5 linked regions of the Homo sapiens genome follow. The protein of the gene in region 1 interacts with the protein of each later gene in a biochemical or structural test. Each region holds a gene or a part of one and is shown in the gene's direction. Other genes may lie near its edges.

Evidence for each region.
Region 2: of the proteins of SENP8 (region 1) and CUL4A, one has a biochemical effect on the other in vitro, tested with the Homo sapiens proteins (one study listed by BioGRID).
Region 3: of the proteins of SENP8 (region 1) and CUL1, one has a biochemical effect on the other in vitro, tested with the Homo sapiens proteins (2 studies listed by BioGRID).
Region 4: of the proteins of SENP8 (region 1) and USP15, one has a biochemical effect on the other in vitro, tested with the Homo sapiens proteins (one large-scale study listed by BioGRID).
Region 5: of the proteins of SENP8 (region 1) and USP21, one has a biochemical effect on the other in vitro, tested with the Homo sapiens proteins (one large-scale study listed by BioGRID).

What each region holds. Positions count from the first base shown.
Region 1 is NC_000015.10:72,123,493-72,129,169, forward strand, and holds part of SENP8 (sentrin-specific protease 8), read left to right. Parts: intron 1-5,677. UniProt on the Homo sapiens protein: Protease that catalyzes two essential functions in the NEDD8 pathway: processing of full-length NEDD8 to its mature form and deconjugation of NEDD8 from targeted proteins such as cullins or p53.
Region 2 is NC_000013.11:113,253,435-113,259,111, forward strand, and holds part of CUL4A (cullin-4A), read left to right. Parts: intron 1-1,258; coding exon 1,259-1,364; intron 1,365-1,518; coding exon 1,519-1,691; intron 1,692-5,677. UniProt on the Homo sapiens protein: Core component of multiple cullin-RING-based E3 ubiquitin-protein ligase complexes which mediate the ubiquitination of target proteins. As a scaffold protein may contribute to catalysis through positioning of the substrate and the ubiquitin-conjugating enzyme.
Region 3 is NC_000007.14:148,785,161-148,790,837, forward strand, and holds part of CUL1 (cullin-1), read left to right. Parts: intron 1-1,390; coding exon 1,391-1,439; intron 1,440-1,828; coding exon 1,829-1,960; intron 1,961-3,396; coding exon 3,397-3,514; intron 3,515-4,589; coding exon 4,590-4,666; intron 4,667-5,149; coding exon 5,150-5,281; intron 5,282-5,677. UniProt on the Homo sapiens protein: Core component of multiple cullin-RING-based SCF (SKP1-CUL1-F-box protein) E3 ubiquitin-protein ligase complexes, which mediate the ubiquitination of proteins involved in cell cycle progression, signal transduction and transcription.
Region 4 is NC_000012.12:62,385,073-62,390,749, forward strand, and holds part of USP15 (ubiquitin carboxyl-terminal hydrolase 15), read left to right. Parts: intron 1-4,358; coding exon 4,359-4,442; intron 4,443-4,532; coding exon 4,533-4,627; intron 4,628-4,710; exon of another isoform or gene 4,711-4,724; coding exon 4,725-4,916; intron 4,917-5,677. UniProt on the Homo sapiens protein: Hydrolase that removes conjugated ubiquitin from target proteins and regulates various pathways such as the TGF-beta receptor signaling, NF-kappa-B and RNF41/NRDP1-PRKN pathways.
Region 5 is NC_000001.11:161,158,168-161,164,476, forward strand, and holds the start of USP21 (ubiquitin carboxyl-terminal hydrolase 21), read left to right. Parts: upstream 1-1,332; 5' UTR 1,333-1,511; exon of another isoform or gene 1,512-1,533; coding exon of another isoform or gene 1,534-1,599; exon of another isoform or gene 1,600-2,198; 5' UTR 2,199-2,339; exon of another isoform or gene 2,340-2,452; coding exon of another isoform or gene 2,453-2,473; coding exon 2,474-3,073; intron 3,074-3,870; coding exon 3,871-3,930; intron 3,931-4,102; coding exon 4,103-4,223; intron 4,224-4,447; coding exon 4,448-4,559; intron 4,560-4,751; coding exon 4,752-4,907; intron 4,908-5,387; coding exon 5,388-5,452; intron 5,453-5,710; coding exon 5,711-5,814; intron 5,815-5,996; coding exon 5,997-6,083; exon of another isoform or gene 6,084-6,089; intron 6,090-6,309. Other genes in the region: UFC1 (ubiquitin-fold modifier-conjugating enzyme 1), read left to right, coding at 1-44, 245-325. UniProt on the Homo sapiens protein: Deubiquitinates histone H2A, a specific tag for epigenetic transcriptional repression, thereby acting as a coactivator.

The sequences.
Region 1 (5,677 bases):
ACCAGGTTTATATTGAGGACAAAAACTGTGACACAATTACAAATGGAACTTTTTTTTTTTTTTTTGTGATGGAGTTTTGCTCTTGTTCCCCAGGCTGGAGTGCAGTGGCGTGCTCTTGGCTCACCACAACCGCCACCTCCTGGGTTCAAGCAATTCTCCTGCCTCAGCCTCCCGAGTAGCTAGGATTACAGTTGTACACTACCACGCCTGGCTAATTTTGTATTTTTAGTAGAGACAGGGTTTCTCCATGTTGGTCAGGCTGATCTAGAACGCCCGACCTCAGGTGATCCACCCGCCTTGGCCTCCCAAAGTGCTGGGATTACAGGCATGAGCCACCGCACCCAGCCTACAAATGGAACTCTTGAGGTAGAAATGGTAGACCAGGAATAAAATTATTTTCATGGTCAATGACACCTTAGCCATTGATAGCTGTGCCTAGTTACAGAGCAATAAATGGAGAGCCTTGGTGTTAGATGAAATCCTAAAAAGTCACCTGTTTTATCTCCTTGGCCCCAGACAGAATAAAGTGGAATTTATAGCAGTAGAGTTACCAAGCATCATCATCACACCAAGTAGGTTTTGTACTTTGAGAGCTGAATTCCTCTCTGAAATATTGATGTTACAGGAATGTTGTTTAAATTCATAGCTCATTTATAAAATTGAGAATATTTCTTACATTTATAACTGTGTTGTGTTTTCCTGAGTTTTTCAAGATATGTTTCACTTCTGTACTTTGCTCACTCAGGAAAAATATTTATTTATTAAAACTCTAGCTTGTCAGGCACTGAAGTTAGAAGGATGAGTAAAATCTAATCTGTGTACTCAAGAGGGTTATATAATAAATCTTGATGGTCATTCTTACATGCCACATTATACAGATCTCCAGATGGCTTAGGCTTAGTTTTAAAAGGAAACGTTTTAATTGGGGGGAAATTGAAACCCCAAAAAAAAGCCATGAACTTCCTTCCTGGAAATATTTTTGCCATAAAAAGCATATTTGGTCTTGGATGTGATTCTTTTTGTGAAAGTGCAAGTTGAATCAGACATTAGAAGTTGGACATAATCTTCTAATTTTAGTAAACATCAAATTATTTTTAAATATTTGTGTTTGAACATTTATGGAAAAGAGATTAGATTTACCTGTTTTATCCAGAGGACAGAAGTAAGACTCAGAAGTTGAAAAAATGGAAATATTTTATGTCATTATAAGAGTGGGAACTGGTACATCTTTTATTCCTCTTCAATATGGAAATCACTGTATTTACTAATTATGTGTTCATTATTAAAAAAGGGGGAAAAATTAAAGCACAATATCAAAAGGTAGAAGGAAAAAGGCAAAAAAGTATTAATCCTATTTCTTAAAATGATATTTACACTTGATGGATATCGTTCTTGATTATTTTTCTGTATATTTTTATCATATACAGATGTTTATATCAAAGCATATTATGAACATTTTTCTTTTAATAAATTTGTATTGACAATATTATATTTAATGGCTGAAAACTATTCCATCGTGTGGAAACCCTGTTGTTTAATTTACCAGTCCTTTTTTGAACTCCAGATTGTTTCCAGTTTTTCTGTTACAAATACTGCCATGGTGAATATCTTGTTGAATTTTTGCACACATTGTTAATGTCTCCCTTAAGTTAAATTTCTTAAAGTATAATACCTACATATATAAATTTCTTAAGAATTCCAATATAATGGCAAATTACCCTTGAAAAAGCTTGCATGTATGACAGTCCTATCAAAATGGGGCATCATTTACTCATTTCCCATAATCTCTCAGCAATGCTAATTATTATTAGTTTTCTTCACCTTTGCTAACTTGACAGGTAAAAAAATGAAATTTTATTTTAACTTACATTTATTTGATTACTACTCTGATGTCCAGTGTCTTTTCATGTGTTTATTGACTAGTCATGTAAGTGTATTAACTAATATTTTCTAACAATTTTTTTTTTACTTTTTAACATTTAAATTTGTATTCTATCTAAAATATAATTTGATGTAAGGTATGAGGTAAAACTCTTTACTTTTTTAATCAAATAATTAACAAGTTGTGCCAATGCTACTTATTAAAAAATCCAGCAAGCATATCCCATACTTCAATATACAGATAATAAAGTACTGATAGATATTCCTCCAAAAAAAAGAAAGACTATTTCGTGGTTAAATAAGTTTGGGAAAAGATCATACGAAAAAAAGTTAAAATTTTTTATCGCCAAACTCTCGTTAGCCTCTAGTGTGTGTGTGTGCATTAGGAGTTAGCATTTCCTAATTTAATTAACCATGTAATCTTTTTTCTTTTTTATTTATTTATTTATTTTATTTATTTATTTTTTTGAGATGGAGTCTCACTCTGTCGCCCAGGCTGTAGTGCAGTGGGGTGATCTCGGCTCACTGCAACCTCTGCCTCCCAGGTTCAAGCAATTCTCCTGCCTCTACCTCCCAAGTAACTGAGATTACAAGTATGCACTACCATATCCAACTTGTTTTGTATTTTCAGTAGAGATGGGGTTTTGCCATATTGGCCAGGCGGGTCTCAAGCTCCTGACCTCAGGTGATCTGCCTGCCTTAGCCTCCCAAAGTGCTGGGATTACAGGTGTGAGCTATTTTTTTTAACCATGTAATCTCACTTCATAGGTATTTCAGGAAATACCTATGAAAGCCTGTGGAACTGAGCTGTCCAGTATACTAGCACTAGCCACATGTGGCTATTTAAATTTTAGTTAATTAAAATTACTCAGTTCTTCAGTCACACTGACCATATTTCAAGAACTCAATAGCCACAAGGGGCTAGTGGCTACTGTATTGAACATTTTGCAGATAAAAGAAAATTTCCGGGCCAGGCACAGTGGCTGATGCCTGTAATCCCAGCACGCTGAGAGGCCGAGGTGGGTGGATCACAAGGTCAGGAATTCAAGACCAGCCTGGCCAAGCTGGTGAAACCCTGTCTCTACTAAAAAACTACAAAAAATTAGCCAGGCACAGTGGCAGTTGCCTGTAATCCCAGCTACTCGGGAGGCTGAAGCAGGAGAATCGCTTGAACCCAGGCAGCAGAGGTTGCAGTGAGCCGAGATTGCGCCACTACACTCCAGCCGGGGCGACGGAGTGAGACTCCATCTCAAAAAATAGGAAAATTTCCGTCACAAGAAGTGCTATTGGACAGCACTGCTATGGGAACATAATGTTCAGTGGAACACGTGAACACGCTGAAAACACTGGAATAATCCATAATTTCTCCTGATTTGTCAGGCAAACATGATTACTACTACACTATGAGAACAGACTCTCTCATTGATTTGTAAAGACTCCATCATCATATTTAAAATTTCTAATCTACATATGATTTTTTTATGCTATTGATTTATCTACTTCTGCTCCAATACCACACCCCTAGTTTTAAGTCAAGGTTCTGCACCTTTCTCTTTCAGAGCAGAAATGAAGAATTCTTGCATGGAGTAGGAAATTAGATTAGAAGTGATAGTAAAGGCGCTTTCACTTCCCAGACTCTAAATGTAAACATTTCTCTGCCGAACTTGATTTATATTATGTTGAGCTGTATACTCAATTACTTATTCATTTATTCTACAATTATTTATTGAGTACCTGCCTGGTAAGCACTGTTTTAGGTCCTGGGGTTAAAATGGCAAACAAGGCAGACAAGGCCCCTCGTCGTCTTATTTTCATAGAGCTTACATTCTTGTTTTGGAGAGGGAAAGAGAAGAGGCAGGGGGAGGAAAAAAGAATATGAACCAATAAACAAATAAATTAAAAAACTATCACATAGTAATCAGTGCTATTCAAGGAATTGAAATTAGAGTGATAGTAACTGGTGGCCTCTTTGTTTTGGCTGCCCTGAGACCTCTGTGACTTAGTGGCATTTAAACTAAGATCTGTCCAAAGAAGAAGCTAATTACTAGAAGGTCCAGGCAGAGCTAGTACCACCCTCAGGAGGGAAAAAGCTTGGTGTATTTGAGGAGTAAAAAGAAAGTCTTTGTGGCTGGGTCTTAGTGGGCAAGCAGGGAAATAATAGGAGATAAGGTTGGAGAAATAGCTGAAGCCACATTTTCATGTAGGGTTTTGTAAACTAGGGTAGGGAATTTTCATTTTTTTCTGAGTATGATAGCTACTAGAGACTCCTAAGCAGGGAACAGACCTGGCCTAATTTAAATTTTTAAACAATTATTTTGATGGAGAATTTATTGGCACAGTCAGTAGTGGAAATAGGAGACCTGTTAGGCTAGGTCAAGAAAGAAATGGTGATAGATTTGACTAAGGTGATAGTAGTGAAGATGGAAAGCATTGGACAGATTTAGAACATTTAGGCTATAGAATCAACAGGACTTGTCAATTGGATGTGAAGTGTGAAGACAATAGAAAACTCTGGGATGAGCCTGGGCAACATAGTGAGACCCTGCCTCTATAAAAAAAAATATTAATTAGCCAGACATGGTGGTATGCACGTATAGTGCATATAGCTACTTGGAAGGCCAAGGTGGGAGGATCACTTGAGCCCATCAGTTAAAGGCTGCAGTGAGCTATGATTGCACCACTGCACTCCATCCTGGGCAACAGAGTGAGACGTTTTCAAAGAAAGAGAGAGGGAAAGGGGAGAGGGGAGAGAGGGAGGGGAGGGGAAGAAGAAAAAACAGAGAGAGAGAGAAAGAAAAAAACTAACTCTTGGATGATGTCTGTAATCCATTATATAGTAACCAGGTTCAATTTTCAGTCTGATTATGGCAGGCAAAATTGGGACACATAAGACACCAATAAATATATTTTAACCAAATGAATAAATTTACTTTAATAAATGTTTCTCTCCTGTACACATTTAAGCTGCTAAAGCATAAGCTTGTGCTCATTCCTTTATTATTAGGGAATCTGACTCCTAAGAATTTGAGGTTTATGTCATAAACACATCAGCTATAGGTAATTATTAGACTGTTCCCCTGAAGTATCCAAGCCAACAGAGGAGACTGAATGAAACAGAAAAAATTGCCTGCCACAGTTGCAAAAGTTCTGTGAGATTCTCATATTTTATTTTTAAATTTCATGCTGATTTTGCATTTTATGCCCAAGTTTATGTTAATAATTAAAATATTTTTAGTTGCTGATTTAAATGTTTTAAGTCAATGATTAAGTGGTTTAGCTCTTTCCCCTAAAGTTGGTCAAATTAAAGCTCTAGGAAGATGCCCTGTGATTAACTTGTGTTTGTTTTTTGGACTTTCTTTGTTGCTATCTGCTGGCACATGGGCATGTATCCATTTAGAGAAGTACAGATGCATCTCTGAGCATTTGTAGTTTGGTACAACTTAAAATCGTAGCCAAAGCGAGTGAGGAAGGCAATAGCATTTAGAAACAACTGACTTTTATAATCTGCACTTACTTTGTAATGTTTTTAAAAAACATACCTGAATGAGGCTGTTTCTCTCTTTTTATTTTTTTAAGGAATGCTTACTGAATAATTAGAAAAAAATGAGTAAAGGTCACAATTCTGGAATAGTATGTTTTCAGTAAAACAGATTTATCTGGAGTACTACTTAAGTCAATAGCCAACAGGCTTATTTTCCCTGAAGTTTTGAGAATTGCTGTATGCCATATAAAATCCTTGTTAATTTAAAACTCTAATACATATTTTAATCCCATAAAATAAATACTTATACATCTA
Region 2 (5,677 bases), on another chromosome or scaffold:
AACTCATAAAAGCAAAATTGAAAAAAATATCTGTGAAGATGCATTACACTTCTCTGCTAAACAGAGGGCTTCAAAGTAAAATACAGTAAGATGCCACTTTTTGACTAAGAGATTTGATGAAGCCTAAAAAATAAAAAAAAATTAAAAAAAACAGACTCTTGCCCACTACTGGAAGAAGCATAAACTGTAGTGAGCTTTTGGAAGGGCAGTTTGGCATTGTGAACTTTGGCAACCCTGCTGCCGAGTTGTTGCCTTAGTTTCAACTCTAGGAACTCATCTTAATAAGACATTTTCACGGATTAATGAATGAGAATAGTGGTTGCAGTGCTGTTATTATGAGCGATTATTTAAGAGGGGAGAATGCATACAATGCACTGATCAATGAAAGGCGCTTATGAAACGGCAATTATATACACTAAGCAAAAACATAAAATTCCTATTTTGTATAGCTGTTATATTAATAATAAACTTATCTGTACATTATCAAATAAGTTATACATACCTACTTTATTATTGTAGAGAGTCATATACATGAAACCATATATTCTCTTCCTTAAGGTATTAGGAAAGTTAATTTCTATTATCCCCAGTTTTTTACCTACTTGCTGACTTTAGTTGAACTTGACCTCCACAGGGTCTGTACCAGCACCACCAACTGCAGCTCTCTCCAGGTGTGCAGGAAGGGCTTGTTATGGGCTTGTGATGAGTCTGGGCTGGGTCCGCAGAGGGGGCCACCAACTGTCACCCAAACTCTCATGTGCCTCTCGTGGGTCTGACCTGGAGGCATGTGGCAAGTTGCTGCAGCACTAACTCCTGAATAGAAAAGGAGATCATCCTGGGATATATAAGGCCAAATTGCATTCACCCCTACGTTACAGTCAGTCCCGTATAAAAGAAAGCTGGACTGTAATCCCAGTACCTGGGGAGGCCGAGGTGGGTGGATCACAAGGTCAGGAGATCGAGACCATCCTGGCTAACACAGTGGAACTCCATCTCTACTAAAAATACAAAAAATTAGCCGGGCTTGGTAGGCACCAGTAGTCCCAGCTACTCGGGAGGCTGAGGCAGGAGAATGGCATGATTCCGGGAGGTGGGGCTTGCAGTGAGCTGAGATTGTGCCACTGCACTCCAGCCTGGGTGACAGAGCGAGACTCCTTCTCAAAAAAAAAAAAGTTTGAGAGCAAAAAGAAGCTTCTTTTAATTTTTCAAAGATTGTACATGCACAGCTTCAGAGGTGTGATGAGGCCTTCTCTTCCAGGGGAAGAAGGAATTCCAGGTGTCCCTCTTCCAGACACTGGTGCTCCTCATGTTCAACGAGGGAGATGGCTTCAGCTTTGAGGAGATAAAAATGGCCACGGGGATAGGTACGAAAACTGCAGAGTGCATAGCTCCATGAGTTGTTCTTAAAGCATGTATTTGTTTTAAGATAAGACATAGACTTGGTAGCATGATTGGTTTACTGTTGTTGAGTCTCATTCGTTTAACGCCAGCCTTTGCCTGCATTTGCTTCCCATTCAGAGGATAGTGAATTGCGCAGAACGCTGCAGTCCCTGGCCTGTGGCAAAGCACGTGTGCTGATTAAAAGTCCCAAAGGAAAGGAAGTGGAAGATGGAGACAAGTTCATTTTTAATGGAGAGTTCAAGCACAAGTTGTTTAGAATAAAGATCAATCAAATTCAGATGAAGGAAACTGTATGTATAAACTTTCTCTTTTTACTTATAGGGGGTTTAGCAGGGAATCATTTGTTTTTGTAGTAATGTTTTTGGCTGTTAGAGGCCTGAAGCACATTTCTACAATAATCCAATTTCACTATGTAATGTTTATAAGAGTACTCATTTTCCTGTCGCTTTCATTAACTTCACATTCTCAGTAGGAAAGAAAATCAGAAAAAAAGCCACTTAATGTTATTCCTATTCACAAAAAAGTTGTGTGCTAAGCCAGAACTCCCCATGGTCATAGGGTTTCGAAAATTATCCACACTTTCTATGGTAATAGAATCTGATATGGTTCACTCTTGGTGTTGTACATTCTGTGGGTCTGGGTAAATGTATAATGTTATGTATCCACCATTATAGGATCATACAGGACAGTTTCATTGCCCTAAAAATTCTCTTATGTTCTGTCGCTGTATCCCTGTCTCCCTCCGAGCCCCTGGCAACCCCTGACCCTGTTACTGTCACCATAGTTTTGCCCTTTCCTGAATGCCGTACAGTTGGAGTCATAGTGTATATAGCCTTTTCAGATTGGCTTCTTTATTTATTAGAACGTATTTGAGGTTCACCGTGTCTTTTCATGACTGGGTAACTCTGCTTTTTGCACTGAAGGATTCTCCGTTGTCTGGATGCATCACAACTTATCCCTTCACCTACTGAAGGACATCTGGTTGTTTCCAAGTTTTGGTGATGATGACTAAAGCTGCTATAAACATTTCTGTGCAGGTTTTTATGTGGACTTAAGTTTTTAACTCCTTTGAGGGTGCACCTTTTATAGTGGGCAAAAGTGAGAAGGTCTATCAGTTCTTTCTCCCGAAGGTAACCACTACTGCCCTTTTTGTTTGTGGTCACAGCCTTTTTCTGTGGTGTGAGTGTATGTAAACTTTTTTTTTAGTGGGATCACTAAGCCAGGCACAGTGACATGCACCCATAGTCTCAGCTACTCGGGAGGGTCGCTTGATCCCGGGAGTTTGAGGCCAGCCTGAGCAATGCAGTGAGACCCCAAACTCTACAAAAGAAAAAACACCTGGGATCACTGTACATATGGCACCTGTCAGGGCCTTCCTGTAGCCAGTTTTCGTTGCTGATCGCAGTCTTCTCCTGGCCAGGACTTGTTGCAGGAGCACAGTGCCGGTTGTGTAGACCCACCAGGGCTGGCAGTGCCCTCGGCCACAGGCACTAACATTCCTCCACTGCCCCTCCTGAAAATAAGATTACGTTCAACACCCTGGCACAGACATTTCTGTGCACTTGTTAGATTGTTTCTTTAGTGTGATTCTTGCTCTGGAGCTGCTGGGTAAAATAATGTGTACTTGTCTTAGTTTGCTCTTTTCCAAGTTGAAGTCTGGCAGATTTCACCAGAGCACAGTGTCTGCCCCCACCTCCACCTGTCCTTCGCTCACCCTGTTCTGAGCAGCCCAAAGATAGTTTGTTGCAGTTTTCATTTTGATTTCTGATTCTTTACAGCATCTTTCTACCACTCAGTAGTTTATACAAATTATATAATCTTTCTAATGCTCAGTTTCTCATATTTAAAATAGACATACTACTACCTCAAGTTGTGAGAATTAAATGAATCGTTTAGAAAGCTCTTTGCCACACACCTGTAAGCACTTCATACATGTTGATGCTGCTCTTTTTATGCTTAGCCATTTGTATTTTTCTTTTTCTAATTGCTTTTCAAGTCATATGCATTCATTATAATGTTTTTTCTCTTACTGATTAGTAGGTTTTCTTTATATATTAAGGATATTAATGCTTTGTCCCTTTTTTTTTTTCGTTTTTTTTTTTTTTTTTTTTTTTGCATTTCACTCTGTCGTCCAGGCTGGAGTGCAGTGGTACAATCTCGCTCACTGCAACCTCCGTCCTCCGGGTTCAAGCGATTCTCCTGTCTCAGCCTCTCGAGTAGCTGGGACTACAGGCATGTGCCACCACACTCAACTAAGTTTTCTATTTTTAGTAGAGACGGGGTTTCACCATGTTGGCCAGGCTGGTCTCAAACTCCTGACCTCAGGTGAGTCACCCATCTCGGCCTCCCAAAATGCTGAGATTACAGGCGTGAGCCACCATGCCCAGCCTGCTTTGTCATTTTTGACAGATAATTTTGTTGTTTTTATTGGTTTTTTTTTCACATAACAGTTTTTAAGTTCTCAAATATAGTCTCCTTTTCTTTTATGGTTTCTGACTTAACGTGTAATGCTGTATTAGGCCATTCTTGTATTACTATAAGGAAATACCTGAAACTGGGTAATTTATAAAGAAGAGAAGTTTAATTGGCTCACGGTTCTGCAGGCTGTACAGGAAGCATGGTGCCAGCATCACCTCAGCTTCTGACGAGGCCTCAGGAAGTTTCCAGTCATGGTGGAAGGTGCAAGGGGAGCAGGTGTCTCACGTGGCAAAAGCATGAGCAAGAACAGGGAGGGAGGTGCCCCACATGTTTAAACGACCAGATCTCATCACCAAGGGGAGGGCCCAAGCCATTCATGAGGGACCTGCCCCCACCCACCCGGTCCCATCTCCAACACTGGAGACCACATTTCAGCATGAGATTTTGAGGGGACACATATTCAAAACCATATCATTGGCCTAAGAGAGAAATTCCCTTAACCAGAGTTTTAAAAAACATTTATACTATGTTATTTTTCTAGAAGTTTTTACATTTAAATCTTTCTTTTCATGTTGCAGAAATTATTTTAGTATCTGAAAACAGTCTAACTGCCCCCATCCTTTCCAAAACCAAATTTAAAATATCATCCTTGAACAAGTTATTTGAATTATCACCTTATTATGTATCAAATTCATATAGGTCAGTTTCTCAATTCTCTTCTATAAATTCTGTGTCTATTTCATAGCCAGCCATTTTTTTTGTTTTGTTTTGTTTTGTTTTTTGAGACAGTGTCGCCCAGGCTGGAGTGCAGTGGTGTGATCATAGCTCACTGCAGCCTCAACCTCTTGGGCTCAAGCGATCCTCCCACCTCAGCCCCAGGCATATGCCACCACGCCCAGCTAAATTTTTGTATTTTTTGTAGAGATGAGGCCTTGCCATGTTACCCAGGCTGGTCTTGAACTCCTGGGCTCAAGCAGTCTTCCTACCTTGACCCCCCAAAGTGCTGGGATTACAGCCGTGAGCCACCGTGCCCGGCACCAGGTTCTTTTAATTAATGTAGCTATTCCTATAACTTTATTCTTCCAATGAACTTGACAATAATTGTATCACGCCTTTGCTCCCCCAAATAAGAACATTGACATTTTTAATCCATATTGCATTAATTTACAGAGCTTTTATCTTTATCATATTAAATCTTGTGATTCATACATATGTGTATATATGTAAATACATACAAATCTTTTTCTCAGAGCTTTCTAGTTTTCTTCTGTAAGTCTTGCATATTTCTTGCTAGTCATAAATTTTCATTCATTCAACAAATACTTATTGAGCATCTGTGGTGGCCCAGGTCCTCTGTGAAGCACTGAGAATTCATCCATTAACAATAAAGAATAAGTCCTTGTTTCTAGGAGTGTTCAGTCTTTTCCAGCAGAGAGGTAGCAGAGGATCACACACATTGACTAACTTGTAAGAGTGGAGGAAAATGTTAGGATAGAGAAGTGCAGGAGAGTCTAATTAAATACTGTCGTCAGCCAACGCTTTCCTGAAGAAGTGACTAGCTTTGCTCAGGAACTGAAAGAAGGCCTCTGGCTGCAGCATCGTTGCCAAAAGGGGAAGCTGAGCCAGACAGGCCTGATCAGGGAGCCACAGCTGGACCCTCTGAAGATGGCTCAGATCCATGAAGCATTTGGAAAACCACTAGAGTTTTAAGCAAGACAGGCTAATGAAATGCTGATATCTTATAAAGGGGACCTTTTTTCTTTACATTTCTGACGGTTTTTATCAGAATGTATGTATTAATGCTATTTGTCTTTGTATATTTATTTTATTTCCAGCCACTTTACAAAACTCTTTAGCT
Region 3 (5,677 bases), on another chromosome or scaffold:
CTGTTTATTGCAATAAACAGGAGTATTTATTCCTGGTTTAATGTGTAATTTAACAATTGCGATCAGATCCTCTCCAGAAATGAGAGGGGACTTTAAATTGGAAGGCCTCTGATGACTTGGTTTCATTTTAGGGGGCTGCATGTTATGACTATGGAGATACTCCACTGGGTCTTCATTCAGTTTGTTTGACAGAACACTTAGTGTCCTTTTTTTTTTGAGACTTAGTCTTACTCTGTCGCCCATGCTGGAGTGCAGTGGCACAATCTCGGCTCACTGCAACCTCTGCCTCCTGAGTTTAAGTGATTCTCATGCCTTAGCCTCCTGAGCAGCTGGGACTACAGGCGTGCCACCACACCCGGCTAATTTTTTTTTTTTTTTTTTTTAGTAGAGACAGGGTTTCACCATGTTGGCCAGGCTCGTCTCGAACTCCTGACCTCAAGTGATCCACCCGCCTCAGCCTCCCAAAGTGCTGGGATTACAGGTGTGAGCCACCACACCTGGCCTTAGTGTCCTTTTTATCCTTTGTCTTTTCATAAATGTCCCTCGTCAAGTCTACTGATACTAGTTAAGGCCACTGATGCAGACAGAATGGCAGAGACATTTCCACAGCACCTCTTTAATGAGCGTGTGTTGGGTGAGTGGAGTCAGGGAGGCACTAAGTTAAACTGCTCCAAGGGAAGAGGAACACCCCTGACCCAAGAGTGCCAAGAATAGGGTTGGGTTTTCTGAACCAACTTTTCTAAAGTTGGAGACACCTCTTCAGAGTTTCTGTGGTGGCTGATTCGTTTTATATGAATTAGGGGGTCTTGTTTATAAAGCAGTCTTGTAGAAAAGACCTGTACAAAAATTCATCTACCTTTAATTCACCTTTGAATTATTATTTGTTCATAGAATGAATCAGTTGTTAAAGGACAATCATCTCTTGTATATACAACTACAGAGGGCAGCAGTTTAGTAGGAATTTAAACCCCTTCATCATCTTTAATGACTGGGCCATGAAAGGGAATCTATGTGCCTTTTTATTTCTCCAAAGTTAAATTACAGCAGACTAGAAAGCAATTGGTAAAGTGAATTTCCTTTACTGAAGTTTAAGTGGATTATCTTAAAGGCAAACTTCTTCAGAATGTTTTTGGAAATGTTTTATAAATATCTCCTGTTGGTTTTCACCTTGGATATTCTAAATGACTACTTCATAATCTGTTCTTCAGTGTTGAGGTTACAGTATGAGATTGCCAGTTTGCTGTAGGTAAGGAAAGTCAACCTTCCCTCTTCCTCTGCACTAATCTGATGAGAACTGATCTTTTGAATGCTTGAAGCTGCATTCTGGCTAAGTGGTGCTTGTTTAAACGTACTGATGTTTTAAAACATGGTATCTTTTTAAAATTTTCAGTTCCAAGAACCCAGAGGAGGCAGAACTAGAAGACACACTCAATCAAGTGGTAAGTGCTTCATGAGCATACCCATTTCCAGTAGCTGTGTATTTCACAAGCTGTTTGTAATGTTATTTGTAGATGGCCTCTGAAATGTGAAAAGTAATAATCATTGATTTTATTTTGAATCTCTGGTTTTACTTCCTAAATTGAGTTACTACTTTTAGCATTCATACTTTTCTCATTAATACTCAGTCAGTCCAACTCACTGAATTAAGGGACTCACAAAACTTTCAAGACTCTGGAGTGGAGATTTTGCCATCATAAACGTTGGCGTACAGACCTGCCCAAAGCCAAAGGCACATCTTGGCTCCTGGCTTGTGGCCGGTGACAGTCAGCTCTGCACTGTTGGCTTGTGTGTGTGCTGGTTAAGTGTGTTGTCTCGGTGGCTTTGCCAGATGGTTGTCTTCAAGTACATAGAAGACAAAGACGTATTTCAGAAGTTCTATGCGAAGATGCTCGCCAAGAGGCTCGTCCACCAGAACAGTGCAAGTGACGATGCCGAAGCCAGCATGATCTCCAAGTTAAAGGTGAGTTTCATCTTTTCCTGAAAAATCCCAGCTTCTGAGTCATTATTAAAACAGCTCTATGGCCGAGCGCGGTGGCTCATGCCTGTAATCCCAGCACTTTGGGAGGCCGAGGCGGGCAGATCACGAGGTCAGGAGATCGAGACCATCCTGGCTAATATGGAGAAACCCCATCTCTGCTAAAAATACAAAACATTAGCCGGGCATGGTGGTGGGCGCCTGTAGTCCCAGCTACTTGGGAGGCTGAGGCAGGAGAATGGCATGAACCCGGGAGGCAGAGGTTGCGGTGAGCCGAGATCACACCACTACACTCCAGCCTGGGCAACAGAGTGAGACTCTGTCTCAGAAAAAAATAAAAAAGCTCTTAGTCTCTCCAGGTTATGAGGCAGGCAGAGGAGTTTGTGCAGTGGTTTGTACAAGAAGCTCTGCCACTGCTCTTCTGAAAGCCTCCCACAACTATCACTCTACTCTCGTTGGGCCCCGGTGCCTTCCCAACCCCTTCCCCACCCCACTGTGGGGCTTCCATCCTACCCAGGCCTGGCTGGGCTCAGCTCACCATCTGTGGGGCCTCTCCTGCCTCCCACACCTTTAGCCTTGCAGCACATTCACACTTCCACACTGTGCTGGCCTGGAGCTGAGTGGAGGTTTTGTTTGCTCTGGGCTTGGTTACTTTGCTGTCACGCAGCCCTTCCTCTGCCACCTCCTTTGCGTGCCTGTGTGTCGGCGCTGTCGAGTGCTCTTATCTGACTTGGGACATACTTTACTTTGGCCCCAAATTATGTAGGTATCTTTGTCAGCGTGGGCTGCCATGACGGAATACCATAGACCAGGTAGCTTAAACAACAGAAATAGTTTCTCACAATTCTGGGGGCCACAAGTCCGAGATCAGGGTGCCAGCTGATTCGGTTCCTGGTGCAGGCCCTCTTCCTGCTTTGTAGGCAGCCACCTTCTTGCAGTGCCTCACGTGTCAGAGAGAGAGTGCAGAGCTCTTGCACATCTCTTACAAGCACACCAATCCCATTGTGAGGCCCCATGCTCAAGACCGCATACCTCCACACAGCATCACGTTGGAGGTTTGGGCTTCAACATAGGGATTTTGGGGGCACACAGTTCAGCTTCTGGTAAGAGATAGAGACAGATTATTTCATCATTGTATTCTACCAGTGTCAGGACACCTTGCTCTTAAATGCTCACAAATTGTGTATGAATTGTGTGTGTGAACACTTCACTGTGCAACATAGAGTTGTGGGGTTTTTTGACAGTGTATTAATATTAATCCATGCATATTTGTACTGTAAAATATAGCAAAATGTTACTAGCTTTGCTAGTAGTTCCATATAATTAAGTATATATTGTATACTCTGATTTCTCTAAGATTCCCTTGTATACATTTGTATTTTTGTACAAATTAATAAGACAGTCATCTGGGTTCTTCTCAGCAAGCTTGCGGGTTCGAGTACACCTCTAAACTTCAGCGCATGTTTCAAGACATTGGCGTGAGCAAAGATCTGAACGAGCAATTCAAAAAGCACTTGACAAACTCAGAACCCCTAGACTGTGAGTATCCGTGTGTCTCTATGTTGTGTTTACAGGCAGAGTTCTCTGTAGCAAATGAAGAAATGACAAAATATTAGGTGAAGATGGGAGGGGCTTTGTCAGAAATTCAAGAACTAAGAAGCGGGAGATTCCTCCCAAATGCCCAGCCCTCCTCCCCCGACTCCCGTGTGACATTAGGAGATGACAACCCTTGAAGTGGTGTCAGCTCTACTGGGGCAAGGTCACCACCTGTTGGGATCTGGGGAGGGACTCACAGGCGTGGTTTTGTCTTGTAAACCTTAGCTTGGATCCATTCTAGCATTTATTTTAATGTTCACTTGGCCTGCATAGGTAACAGTCAAGCTAAAGACCTGTGGCTTCAGACTGGGATTAGGGATCAGTACAGGCAGGTGCAGGTGATTCAGTTCTCCAGGAGAGGCAGCTGGGCTGGTATTTTAGGGCCTTGCATAGTAGTAGGATGGCGGATTTATGCTTACATCATCTTTTGATCATCTTTGTCTTTTTAAATGAAAAATGGAGAATTTTATTTTTCCCAAATCAGAATGACAATTCTATTGTAAAACTGGACAGTTTTGCCAGTGGGCTTTTTAACTATCTGCGAAGATGAAATTACTGTTATAATTTATAGACCATGTGTGGCGTTTCCCAGTAATAAGTGAAACATACACTATAATGAAGTTAGCGGTTTTCTCCTGCTTGTGAGTTTGCATGAGTCTGGGGCTGTGATGATGCCGGGCCTGGCAAGCACAGGCGTGGCTTGAGTGGACTGAGTGATTCAGGACAGAAAAGGAAAGCAAGGGAAGCAGGGCAGGCGTGTGACAGCAGAATTCCGAGGTGGAAGCAAAATGAAGACTCTCACTCTTTGGAAGAAAAGAGTATCTGGCTCTTGCACTTTTTGCTAATTTTAATTGAATAAAATGTTCAATTCTTAATTTTATATTCAAGCAGGATTTTTATTTAATGTGCTTTTTAATAAAGAGCAATCCACATTCATCTGAAATGATTGAATTTTTCAGTTTATAAACTAATTAATGTATTCCAGAATGTTCACTCTCCCCTCTCTTCCGTCCCACAGTGGATTTCAGCATTCAAGTGCTGAGCTCCGGGTCCTGGCCCTTCCAGCAGTCTTGTACATTTGCCTTGCCGTCAGAGGTAAGGATGGGTTTGTCTGCCATCCCATTAGTGCTAAGTGGAGGGTGGGGCAGGGCAGCCTTCACTGTGGAAGGGGACAGGCCTGCAGATGGCCTTCCTGCTGGCTGGCTGCATCACGGTGAACCATGGGGGCAACACTCAGGGAAGAGCCCTGTGCAGTGGGGCAGGTCTGGATGTCTAAAGGTGGGCTGTCTGTCCCAGCTCTACAGACATGTTTCCTTATCTTGTAAAGCAGAACCTAATTAGTTGTGTAATGAACACCTCGATGGACCTGCTGGTCTTGAAGTACAAACCTTTTTTAAGATTGTACCTTCCAGTGCTTAAAGTGCTTTACAAGAGAGGCAGACACCTGGCGTTTGTATTTTACTTTTATGTAAGCACTGACTTTGTACTGTAAGCTTGGAACAGTGGGCTTTACTTAGAAACGCTGCCTGTAGGATGTGGTGAGATCTGTATTCCATATAATGCTGTCCTTTTATCTAGTTGGAACGTAGTTATCAGCGATTCACAGCTTTCTACGCCAGCCGCCACAGTGGCCGAAAATTGACGTGGTTATATCAGTTGTCTAAAGGAGAATTGGTAACTAACTGCTTCAAAAACAGATATACTTTGCAGGTAAGATCACATTTTTATCTTAAAATTTTTCTATTCTAAATGAACATAAGGCAAATTATGGAAATCATTATCAGCTGACTCAGCAGCAGAATCTAGAATTCAGCTTCTGGTGAAATAGTGGCAGGTTTAAAGCATGGAGTTGTAAGAATCAGATGAACCAAATTCCAATTCTTTCTGGCTGGGGAGCAAGTTATTTAATGATTGTGAGCCTCAGTTTTCTCCTCCATTAATGGGAGTGTTAGTACTTTATAGTTGGGAATTGATGTGAAAATTAAATAATGTATTTAGTAAGTGTTTGGCACCGCTCCTGCCTGACACACATCAGCTGTTCAGGTAGTGACTTCAAAAGCTGGAGTTGCATGCATTTCATTATATCAGCTCTCCACCTTACACAGA
Region 4 (5,677 bases), on another chromosome or scaffold:
TGGCTTACTTTTATCTTTTATCCCTAGACTACAAGTCTTTGAAGACAGAGACCTTGTAAACCTTTGTATTTCCAGCTTTTGTGGCTGGTAAATATTAATGCACAAGAAGTATTCAAAAATTTTATTCATCAAGATACTTAACTATGCACCTACTAAGTATAAAGCTCTTTGGCTAAACAAAAAAGATATGATTCCTGCTTTAGAAGATTGTTTTCTGTAAATTTTTAGCCAAATAGCTCAGTTTGTTAGTGCATAATAGTCACGATGTCTATATGAAAGCTATATTTGAACAAAATTATGATCTTACCATTCAGGGATGTATTTGGGTTTATTGTCAACAAAGACAGGGTATATGTAGTGTTCATAAACACACAGTCCTTTTATTCAAAGTAATTAAAGTCTAGTAGATACTAGGTATGTACTCAGTTATGCAAATTTAAGCAATTTGTTTTTCTGCTGCTTTATGTTTTCTTTATGAACTCATTGAACACAATGCCCTCATATCAGTATTTCACTGGAGAGTGCTAAGTACTATCCCTTATCTGTGAGCAGAGCCAATAAAGACCTGCTTTTACTTTTGGCCTGGGGAATATGTGTTCACATTTTTAAAGTTATATCCTTTAGATATTCACTTATTCACTCGTTTATAAGTACAAGATTGTCAACATTCTTTTCAATGGTGAGAAACTATAACAGTGCCAAACCACATCCTTACCTCTCTAGTTTATAACTTTGCAGATATACACCAATGAGTGTAATGGAGCAAGAGAGCGTAGAATAATAAGTATAAATTTACTGCAACAAAAAATAAATGTAGATGTTTTATTTCTCTACAGCACATTTGTTAGAGATAATATTCTCCCATGCCAATAATATAAGGTAATCTATATCAATAGTGGCAAATTGCATTAATTTACACATTAGTCCATAAGGTATATGATAAGTGCTCTTCCATAAATTGGGCTCTAAATTATTTTTCCAGCAATGTGAATTTCATTGACTTATCACTTTTCTCATTTGGTGACCAATAATATAAATTTGCGGAGGTTAGAGCCATGGTTAGCACAGAGAAATTCGTTTGTTTTTGTGTTTTGTGTTTTTTTTTTTTCCTTTTTTCCATTTAGAGGCAGTAACAACTCAAATACAAAATGATCACCTCATTTCATTAACACTATGCTTTGACCAGCTTGTAAGAAAAGTGAAATTAGCTGAGTTTCCCTATTTGTTGAGTTTTCCCGTCATTGAAGTTGATTTAGGTCATGGAAGCTTATTAGGAAAAATATTGAATATATATTATATCTTAGGCTCTTATGCTGTGCAAGGTGCTAGAAATATAATGGTGTTTCTAGTCCTTGTTCTTCAAGAAGCTTGTCATACAGTGTGAAAATTGCTCTGACAGGGTGCTGCAAGAGAACACAGAGTAACCTACCCAAACTGGTTATGAGGCCTGTGATAAATTCTGAAGGACAATTAGGTTATAAGCAGGTGAAAACTAGAAATAAAAGCATTATAGGCCAAGATAATGGCATGTACAAAGAACTTATGGGAGAAGAGGACATGGCCCACTTCTGTAATCTACAGTAGTTAATATGGCAAGCAGGAGCTAGATCACGAAGAACTTTGATGCCAGTATAGGAAGTTTGAACTTCATCCTAAAAACTAGGGAAGCCATTAAAGACTATTAAGTATAGATATTATATGGCCACAATTATGTTTCAGAAAGATGATTCTGGGTAGCACAGAGATCAGTTAGAAAAGGCTTAGTACTAAGACCAGGTAAGAAGCTTTTAATGATCAGACGACAGACAAATGACAAACACTTCAACTCTGTCAGGATGGCAGTTTGAAGAACCAGTTGAATGTAGGAAGTGAAAATGTGTAAGTATATTCAAAGATGATGCCAAGTTTACTTGACAGGAAAAGAGGAGACAGCAGTGCTGTTTTAGTGGAATATATAGGAAGAACAAGTTGAAGAAGGAATCCATTTTAGTATTGAACGTGGTGGCCTAACATGACCCAAACCTGTGTTTAGTATTGGATATGCTGACTTACAGATGCATGAGGAACACTTAGGTAGAGATATCCAGTAGGCATTGAATTTGTGTATCTAGACCAAAGGAGAGAGACTGCTTTAGCTATAAATTGGACAATCAGCTCTATGAAAATGATAGTGTTTTAGAAGGATGAGATTACTTAAGGCTAAGGTGACCCCGTGATTTATCATCTAAACAAGAACTCTTGAAAATAGAAGGGACTGTCATTAATAATTATACTAGGATAGCAGGCTAATCCAGGACTGGCCAAAGCAAATCAGGAGACACTGTTGCCTCTTCCAAGGAGAGCATATAAAATTGAGAAGAAGGCTAAAGACAACACTCTAAAGAACAATGTAGGAGAACTTCAAAAGAGGAATATGATCACAGCAATAGAAAAGAATTAAAAGTAGTCGTGTTATAAGGAAAGGGAATTTTTTAAGGAGAAAGTGGTCAGCAGTCATATTACAAAGAGGTCAATAAAATAAAGACTGATAAGTTGTACAACATTATTGGCAACCTTGGAAACAAGTTAAATAAAGAGGCGAAGACAAGCCAGCAAGAGGGTTGAGAAGTAAATGGGAGATAAGGAAGTTATGATAATATAGATATCATTAATAAAGTTATTTATAAAATAGAGGAGAAGGGGAGATAATTAGAGGGAAAGCAATGAGGTACCCTTGTTTTTTGAGAGACTTTATATTCCAATGCTTATGCAAGAGTTGAGATAAAATGGAAGAAAGAATAATTGCTTGGTTTAGGTCCCAGAGAAAGCAGAAGAGCATGGGATTTAGAACATAGACGCTAAGGTTAGCTTTGAATAAGAAGAGAGACATCTTTCTTTCCATGTGTTGCAAGAGACAGAAAAGTACCTATGTGGATTCAAAGAAGTTAGTAGAACAGGAAGTTGGAGATTTTCCCACCCAGTAGTTTCTGTTTTTGAGATGAAATAGGTATTCTGCTGATATTAAGGGAGCAGTAGTGAAATAGGAAGCCTAAAGAATGGTGAAGATTTTTTTTTTTTTTTTTTTTTTTTTGTTAATGAGACAGGGTCTTGCTCTGTCACCCAAGTTGGAGTACATTAGGGTGTGATCTCAGCTCACTGCAACCTCCGCCTCCTGGGCTCAAGGGATTCTCCCGCCTCAGACTCCCAAGTAGCTGGGACTACAGGTGTGCGCCTCCGAGCCCAGCTAATTTTTTGTATTTTTGTAGCAACAGGGTTTTGCCATGTTATCCAGGCTGGTCTCGAACTTTCGGGCTTAAGCGATTCACCTGCCTTGGCCTCCCAAAGTGTTGGGATTACAGGCGTGAGCCACTGGGCCCAGCCCAATGAAGATTTTAAATAGTTATTGAGATAAATGAGAGAATAACCACATGTGTGATATGCAGAATTATTTCTGAGTACTGTCAAAGGATCAATTGATATTGGGCACTGTGGATTTGTAGCACACCAGCCTCTAAAATTGGGAAATTCTCTTCAGCACATGTGAACAGCTCTGAGAAAGTTTAGCAAGAGTGGAATGAATAGAATTGAGTAACAAAGACATTAAAGGTTCGTGATAAAGCATGTAGGGCCTGGATGGAAGGGCTAGAAGACAGTAGGGAGCTGGTAAACTGGGAGAAAACAAGAGTTAAAAGGAATAGAAATCTCTGTGCAAGACAAGAAGAGATAAGAATGAATTTCCAGGAGAAGCAAGAAGTAGTGGTTAGACAGTAACCCGAGTTTAAGATACTAAAAGTGGGGCCGGGTGCAGTGGCTCAGTCCTGTAATCCCAGCATTTTGGGAGACTGAGGCAGAAGGTCACTTGAATCCAGGATTTTGAGACCATTCTGGGCAACATAATGAGACCTTGTCTCTAAAAAATAAAAATTAGCCAGTCATGGTGTCACACGCATGTAGTCCTAGCTACGCAAGAGGCTGAATTCGGAAGATGGCTTGAGCCCGGGAGGTTGAGGCTGCGGTGAGCCAAGATCATGCCACTGCACTCCAGCCTGGGCAACAGAGTGAGTGAGAGCCTGTCTCTAAACAACAAACAAAAAAAGATAGCAAAAGTGGGAGCAGTTTCAAGTAATGACAGGATCTAATAAGTTGACTGAGGTTGAATTAATGCAAGTGTCTTTGAATTGAGGAGCCAAGGAATGATAAAACTAGGACAAATTATCCATGTGGGCATTGTCACACAGGACCCAGGATAGTGGCAAGATTGGAGACAAACACTAATCCAAATGCCAAATGAATGTGAGATAGCAACCATGAGGTCACTCTCATTTACTGAATTTTTTTTCCAAAATAATAAATTCATTACAATTTTTTTTGTTTTTTAGTACAAAGTGGTTGTCCCCAAAATTGGAAACATATTAGATCTTTGTACAGCATTGTCTGCTTTGTCAGGAATACCTGCAGATAAGGTAAGATGTTTCTGGGGTTGAAGTATATAAGTTGGTATTTAGTTTCTCAGTGCTGTAAAACCAGCTTAATAGAAATTCGTTTCCTTTTAGATGATAGTTACTGATATATACAATCATAGATTTCACAGAATATTCGCTATGGATGAAAACCTTAGTAGTATTATGGAACGGGATGATATTTATGTGTAAGTATAAAACTCATTGTGCAAAATATTACTTGAAAAAAAATTAATAGAAGTAACATAAAATTTTGAGAGTTTATGGTCAGTTTTGTCCTTGTAGGTTTGAAATTAACATCAATAGGACAGAAGATACAGAGCACGTGATTATTCCTGTTTGCCTAAGAGAAAAATTCAGACACTCGAGTTATACCCACCATACTGGTTCTTCACTTTTTGGTCAGCCCTTTCTTATGGCTGTACCACGAAACAATACTGAAGACAAACTTTATAATCTCCTGCTCTTGAGAATGTGGTAAGTGCCAGACAATTCTACATTGACAAAATAAATATGGGAATAAAATATAAAATAGCTAATAAAAATAAACACATAAGGTACTATTGGAATATAATTATTCAAGTCTGTATTATCTCAATTTTGTTCATAGTCAGATTATAGTCCTAATCCACTTTCTTATTCATGTAAAACATATTATGGAGGTAATTTCAAACCCAGGAAGCACGAAGTCTGTAGCAGTTTTAAACCAAAAGTTTACAGTTAGAAGGACATAGGAATTTATGTTATAATAATTATGTGTTACATGTTCATTCTGTGAAATCATAACAAATGTCAAATGCCATATGTTTGCACTGTGAAATAACAAATGTCAAATGCTTCATTTCTTTATATACATTACCAGTTCATGATTAATAGTATTGTAAGGCAGCCTATTTTTTGCCTTCCTGAATAAATCCCTTGATTTGAATTATGAAGTTATCAAGAATGTCATTTGATCCCTTTTATCCTTGAAAGCTGGTATATTTAGTATTCTTTCTTGCATATCTAATTATTATAGTTTCATAACCCATATATAAAGATCACATTATACAAATATAAGTGTTTTTAGCAACAATATATACCATCTAAATAGGGTAAGTTGAGAAATTATTTGCAACAAACATTTAACATTTAACCTAAAAGGTAACATATTAATTATTTTTATAAAGATGAGCAAAACAAATTACTAGTCAGTTATACTTATGGTACTAAAAGTTTGAATTTATCTTTGAATCTAC
Region 5 (6,309 bases), on another chromosome or scaffold:
GGAATGTGCCCAAATTTGGACTAGCTCATCTCATGGCTCTGGGGGTAAGTTTTGTGTATTTGGCATAAAAGGAGAAAGAGGGACTTAGGCCCTGAGCAGTACAAGAAAAGCAGCTAAGAATAAAAGGAATAACAGTGATGTCCCTTAAGCATGTTCCCCCAGAATCTGTCTCCAGGAAGGAGCTTCTAATGGAACAAGAAGCATTGACTGGTAGTAATCTCACAGGATTTTCCTTGTATTGCAGCTGGGTCCATGGCTGGCAGTGGAAATCCCTGATCTGATTCAGAAGGGCGTCATCCAACACAAAGAGAAATGCAACCAATGAAGAATCAAGCCACTGAGGCAGGGCAGAGGGACCTTTGATAGGCTACGATACTATTTTCCTGTGCATCACACTTAACTCATCTAACTGCTTCCCCGGACACCCTCCACCTCTAGTTGTTACTAAGTAGCTGCAGTAGGCATTGCTGGGGAAGAAACAAACACACACCAAACAGTACTGCTACTTAGTTTCTAAGGCTGCACAGGGAAGGGAAAGACTGGGCTTTGGACAATCTAGAGGTAATTTATATCCGCCCCCAGGTGGAGCAACATGCGATTCTGGAGGCACGGGGGTAACTGAAAGTGAGTACATATAGTCTTTCTGGTTTCTGGAGATAACCCATCAATAAAAGCTGCTTCCTCTGGTAGCCTGTGGTTCTCATTGGGAGCTGTTAACAGAGGGCAAGTGGGCTGAAACCTGAGGCACATGAACAGCTACGCCGGGTTGGGTTGGGAAAGAGTCGGAAATAGGGGATGCTCTGGTCAGGAGTGGGAATGAAATGTTGACTGTTCCCCCTGCTGCTCAGATCTACCTTTGTCCTTTAGTGGTGAGCCATGCTTTGCCCTACCGTGTTAGCCTGCAAGAAGTGGTTTTGCCGGACCAGCACTTCCCGCCCTCCAGGGATCTTCCCAGCCCTCTGTGAAGTGCTAGATGCTTCTCCACTGGTCTGCGGGCTGGACCCAGGCCTGCAGTTTGCCATACTTGCGCCCCTGCTGTTTGGGAAGGATCTGTGCTGTAAGCCTCGCGGCCATACTACGACTGTCAGATCTCCATCCCTATGGGCTATAGGATGGGGCGACGGCACCCTATACCTCAGGGACTTGCTTTGGAGTCATGGATTAAAGACCTCTCTGGGCAGCGTTGAGAACCAGCGACCCTAAACTTGGCTGCGTTTCCATGGTGTCGATCGCGGAGCCGTGGGGGCGGGCTCACGCAAGCGCCAAGGGACCGGTGGGAGGAGTTCGGGTGTGGATGCGCAGGCGCTTTGAGAGACGGTGAAGCCGGTGGCCGGTGGCCGGGCGGGACCAACAAAGATGGCGGCGGCCCCTGCGGCGGGAGCGATCTGGGCAACGGCTGCGGCTAAAGCTGCAGCCGGGCCCACGGGGGGGCTGCACGGGGGTAGTAGGGGGTGGCCCTGAACTGGGGCCTGGCCCTGGCTGGCCTCTCCCGCCGCCTCACTGGGGGACAGGTACGGGCCGGGGCGTTATGGCATGGCGGGGTGTGGGGGGGCGCAGAGGGAAGACTGCTCCAGACCCGAGAGGACACTCTCCACAAAGGCGCGTGGGGCCCGGCGGGGCCTGGGAGAACTGGGCTGGAGGGACAGCATCCCTGGACCGCGGGGAATACGCCGCCGGATTCCGTAGCCAATCAGCGGTCTCGGCCTTTCTGCCCTCGAGGGGGGCGGACCCGGCTAAAGCCCTGCTGTGGTGGGAGAAGTGCAGAGATTAAGGGTCAAGGAGTTGTTCGTCCTCCATCCCCGACTACTGCTTTCTGAACCTCGACACCATGTCGGAGGTCGGAGGTGGGGGAGGGAATGGATCGTAAGTCACCCATATAGTCTGCTTCATTTGCAGCCCAGAGAGGCAGGGATTCGAGGATGGAGGGCTGTCTTTTGGGCTGTTATTCTTGCATCTACACTACCATTTGGCTAGGGTCTTAAGTGACCCGAGGCACATCCTACTTTACTAGCCGGGTATGGGGTCCCATGTTACGTTAGAGCCGAGATAGGAGTTATCACTGGCTTTTCAGTAAAGATGTGTTCTGCAGGGAGGGGTCGGGAGTATAGAAAGGGTCAAAGCCATGGGCTGCTTATCTTTCATTCATTTGTTTACCCAATAGATACTAAGTATTTACTTTGTACCAAACACGATGCCAGGTACTGGGGATACGATGGCTGATTCGATAGATCTGGTTCCTGCCCTCAGTGCGTATACTGCTCCCCACTTTCGTTGATGTGGTAGTGGTGATGACTGAGCCAACCACCTAATGTGGAAATGAGAGGACAGCAAGATTGTGGGTATGGAATGGGGCAAAGCAATAAGGGAAAATTAGTGTGGCAGGGTTCAGTACAGCAGCCTGGGTTCCCATTTCCCCCCATATTCAAATGCTGACACTCTCTTCTCCTCCCAGGTCCAGCCTGTGGTGTCCACAATGCCCCAGGCCTCTGAGCACCGCCTGGGCCGTACCCGAGAGCCACCTGTTAATATCCAGCCCCGAGTGGGATCCAAGCTACCATTTGCCCCCAGGGCCCGCAGCAAGGAGCGCAGAAACCCAGCCTCTGGGCCAAACCCCATGTTACGACCTCTGCCTCCCCGGCCAGGTCTGCCTGATGAACGGCTCAAGAAACTGGAGCTGGGACGGGGACGGACCTCAGGCCCTCGTCCCAGAGGCCCCCTTCGAGCAGATCATGGGGTTCCCCTGCCTGGCTCACCACCCCCAACAGTGGCTTTGCCTCTCCCATCTCGGACCAACTTAGCCCGTTCCAAGTCTGTGAGCAGTGGGGACTTGCGTCCAATGGGGATTGCCTTGGGAGGGCACCGTGGCACCGGAGAGCTTGGGGCTGCACTGAGCCGCTTGGCCCTCCGGCCTGAGCCACCCACTTTGAGACGTAGCACTTCTCTCCGCCGCCTAGGGGGCTTTCCTGGACCCCCTACCCTGTTCAGCATACGGACAGAGCCCCCTGCTTCCCATGGCTCCTTCCACATGATATCCGCCCGGTCCTCTGAGCCTTTCTACTCTGATGACAAGATGGTGAGGACTTGCCACACACATGGCCTTCATGCCCATGTTCCTCTGTGCTTTCCTGCCATCCTCTGCCTTTTCTGTCCCCCATTTCCCTGAAGTTCCTTTCTCAGCCCTTCATTACAGCAGTTTGGACATGCCTCTCCCTTGCTTAAATACCCTTGAGCCTCCTAGACCCTTTTTTGGGTTGTTGGTGACTCTTCAGCATGGTGTGCCATTTCGGTCCCCAGGGGATTACCCCAACTATTTAGAATTCTTCTTTGGGTCCCCAGGCCCTTCCTTTCCCTTGCTTGCACCTTCTCTACTGGGACTCTGCCTAGGCCTAATTAATCTCTGGAGCTAAAGAGAGGCAGGCACAGAACATCTTAGCAAACGTGGTTGCACATTTTCTGAGCTAAGTAAGCTAGGCTGATTGCAATTGGAGCCAGCAGGAGAAGGGCAAGAAGGGGCCACGGGGGCAGGAGGGGGTTTTGGGGGCAGAAAGGTGGGAGTGGTGAGCAGCTGGGCAACCATGCCGGTGCTGGGGGAGTTGCCCCAGGAGCTGCAACGTCAGCTAGCTGAGCAGAGGAGTAAGTGGGCAACAGGTGGGACAGCCATGGCTGAGTCCGTGGTACATTCAGCTGTGATGGGCTTACTGCTCATGACCAGTGAGGTAGGGAGACTAGAATACCTAGTGAGGGGAATAGGGTAGAGTTTGGGGATGAAACATGCATGGGATGGGGGAGGCAGTGGGCAGCATGCTGTTGAAAGGTTAAAGTGCCAGGTAGGATATATAGGAACTTGCCGATTGTACTCTGACCTTCCAGGCTCATCACACACTCCTTCTGGGCTCTGGTCATGTTGGCCTTCGAAACCTGGGAAACACGGTGAGAGCTATTCTCCTATCTTTCCTCTCTAAAAGGAATGTGAAATGGTGCTGGGGGTGGGGAAAACCCACGAGCTTGGGGAAGGCATGTGGAAGGAGAGCTCTGAAGCTCTTCTAAGGCTTCCTGGGCAGTGGTCTGGAGAGATAACAGCAGTGTCCCTACTGCTCCCCAGTGCTTCCTGAATGCTGTGCTGCAGTGTCTGAGCAGCACTCGACCTCTTCGGGACTTCTGTCTGAGAAGGGACTTCCGGCAAGAGGTGCCTGGAGGAGGCCGAGCCCAAGAGCTCACTGAAGGTGGGGCAACAACTCCTGCTCCCTCTGTTCAAGTCCCTTTTTCCCCAACCACTTGCAGGTCCATCTGCCACTGGTGGTGGCCCCCAACCCTTAAATCTGGCAGTTGTATCTACTTTTCCCAGTGCCTACTTTCCTAAAGGTTATTTTCTACCCTCTGAGCCACCTTTTGCTTGCCTCTTCCAGACATTAACCTTTGTTTGCCTTCCCCACTCCCATCCCAACAGCCTTTGCAGATGTGATTGGTGCCCTCTGGCACCCTGACTCCTGCGAAGCTGTGAATCCTACTCGATTCCGAGCTGTCTTCCAGAAATATGTTCCCTCCTTCTCTGGATACAGGTGGGAGAGCTGGAGGCTATGGGATTTCTCTCTGGCCATGTCTGGGGGTAGGGCCAAGCAAGGGCCCTGGCAGCATTGTTCTGAGCCTTGAGATGTTCTTCATCCAGGAAGTGGGGACCAATATCTGGGCAGGGAATAGTGTCTGTGGACTAGGAGAGGAGTCAGTTGCCCATACTCTTTGTCTGGCTGTAGCCAGCAGGATGCCCAAGAGTTCCTGAAGCTCCTCATGGAGCGGCTACACCTTGAAATCAACCGCCGAGGCCGCCGGGCTCCACCGATACTTGCCAATGGTCCAGTTCCCTCTCCACCCCGCCGAGGAGGGGCTCTGCTAGAAGAACCTGAGTTAAGGTAAGGGTCGTTCCCTCTACCTCCTTTCCCCGTAGTTTATCAGCATCATTCACACTTCATAGAACTAAACTAGTAAAGATTGAAGATGTAGGGTCCAGGGAAACCCTTTAGTATAGAAAATAGTATGAGAAGCAACATAGAAGTAGAAGGAAGGAAGGAAGAGGGGGAGTCTAAGGGAGCAGATGGAGGCAGAAGATCATGCTAGGGATGTCACCAAATTGAAGAAGGGGATAATTCATTTACAGGTAGAGGAAGACAGCATATTCTTCCCTTATGTACATTCCTTTCTTTTCCTCTCACCTCGGATTTCCCTAGAAAGTTCATTGAGGCATTATTCTTTTGACTTTTCCTTGAAATTTAGGGAAGGAGCAGGGGTGTGGATGGGGAGTAGGGCTCTGTAGGTTGTTTCAGTGGGTGTTGGGGGTGCCCAGTGTTCCTGCTGTCTCATGGGTGCTCCCCACTTCCTTTGATCTGTGGTAGTGATGATGACCGAGCCAACCTAATGTGGAAACGTTACCTGGAGCGAGAGGACAGCAAGATTGTGGGTATGGAATGGGGCAAAGCAATGAGGGAAAATTAGTGTGTGAGGGGGGTACAGGCTTGGGGGGAAAAATCGATACTATCAAGGGGTATGGGAACAAGACTGGATGATGCAAATGTGAAGCTGTGTGAAGAGTTGATTAGGAGTGTTGGTAGTGGGAAAGGAAGGGTCAAGCAAAGGGGCAGGAAGAGATGGAAATCCAAGAAATCATCTCATAACATCCAACAATGACCTTTTCTCCTGTCCCTGTGCTTCTGTCTAGACCTGTTTGTGGGCCAGTTGAAAAGTTGTCTCAAGTGCCAGGCCTGTGGGTATCGCTCCACGACCTTCGAGGTTTTTTGTGACCTGTCCCTGCCCATCCCCAAGGTGGGATTCCAGAGGATTCCGGGGTGGACAGGACAGGGGCTCTGTGACCCAAGCCTACCCACCCCCAGAGTGTGGGCGGGAACCCTGTGGGTTTCTGGAGCAGAACTGAAGCCTGGATTGATTGAGAAGAGTTGGAAAAGGAAATTCAGAACATGTTGACCTTTCTTCCCCTTTTCCCCCAGAAAGGATTTGCTGGGGGCAAGGTGTCTCTGCGGGATTGTTTCAACCTTTTCACTAAGGAAGAAGAGCTAGAGTCGGAGAATGCCCCAGTATGTGGAGGTTCACAAGGGATACAGTAAGGGTGGGAGACCTGGGGGGACTCCATGTGGATAAAAGGGATTGCATGATGTCTTCATATGGGGAATAATATTTATGTATCTGGGTTTGTGTTGGAGTCTCAGATCTGTTCTAGTACTCCTAGAGCAAAGGGGAGAAGCCAAGAGGATCCAGCTGTAATGAAGAGCATACTAAATTTGTATGTGGATCGGGGTGTCA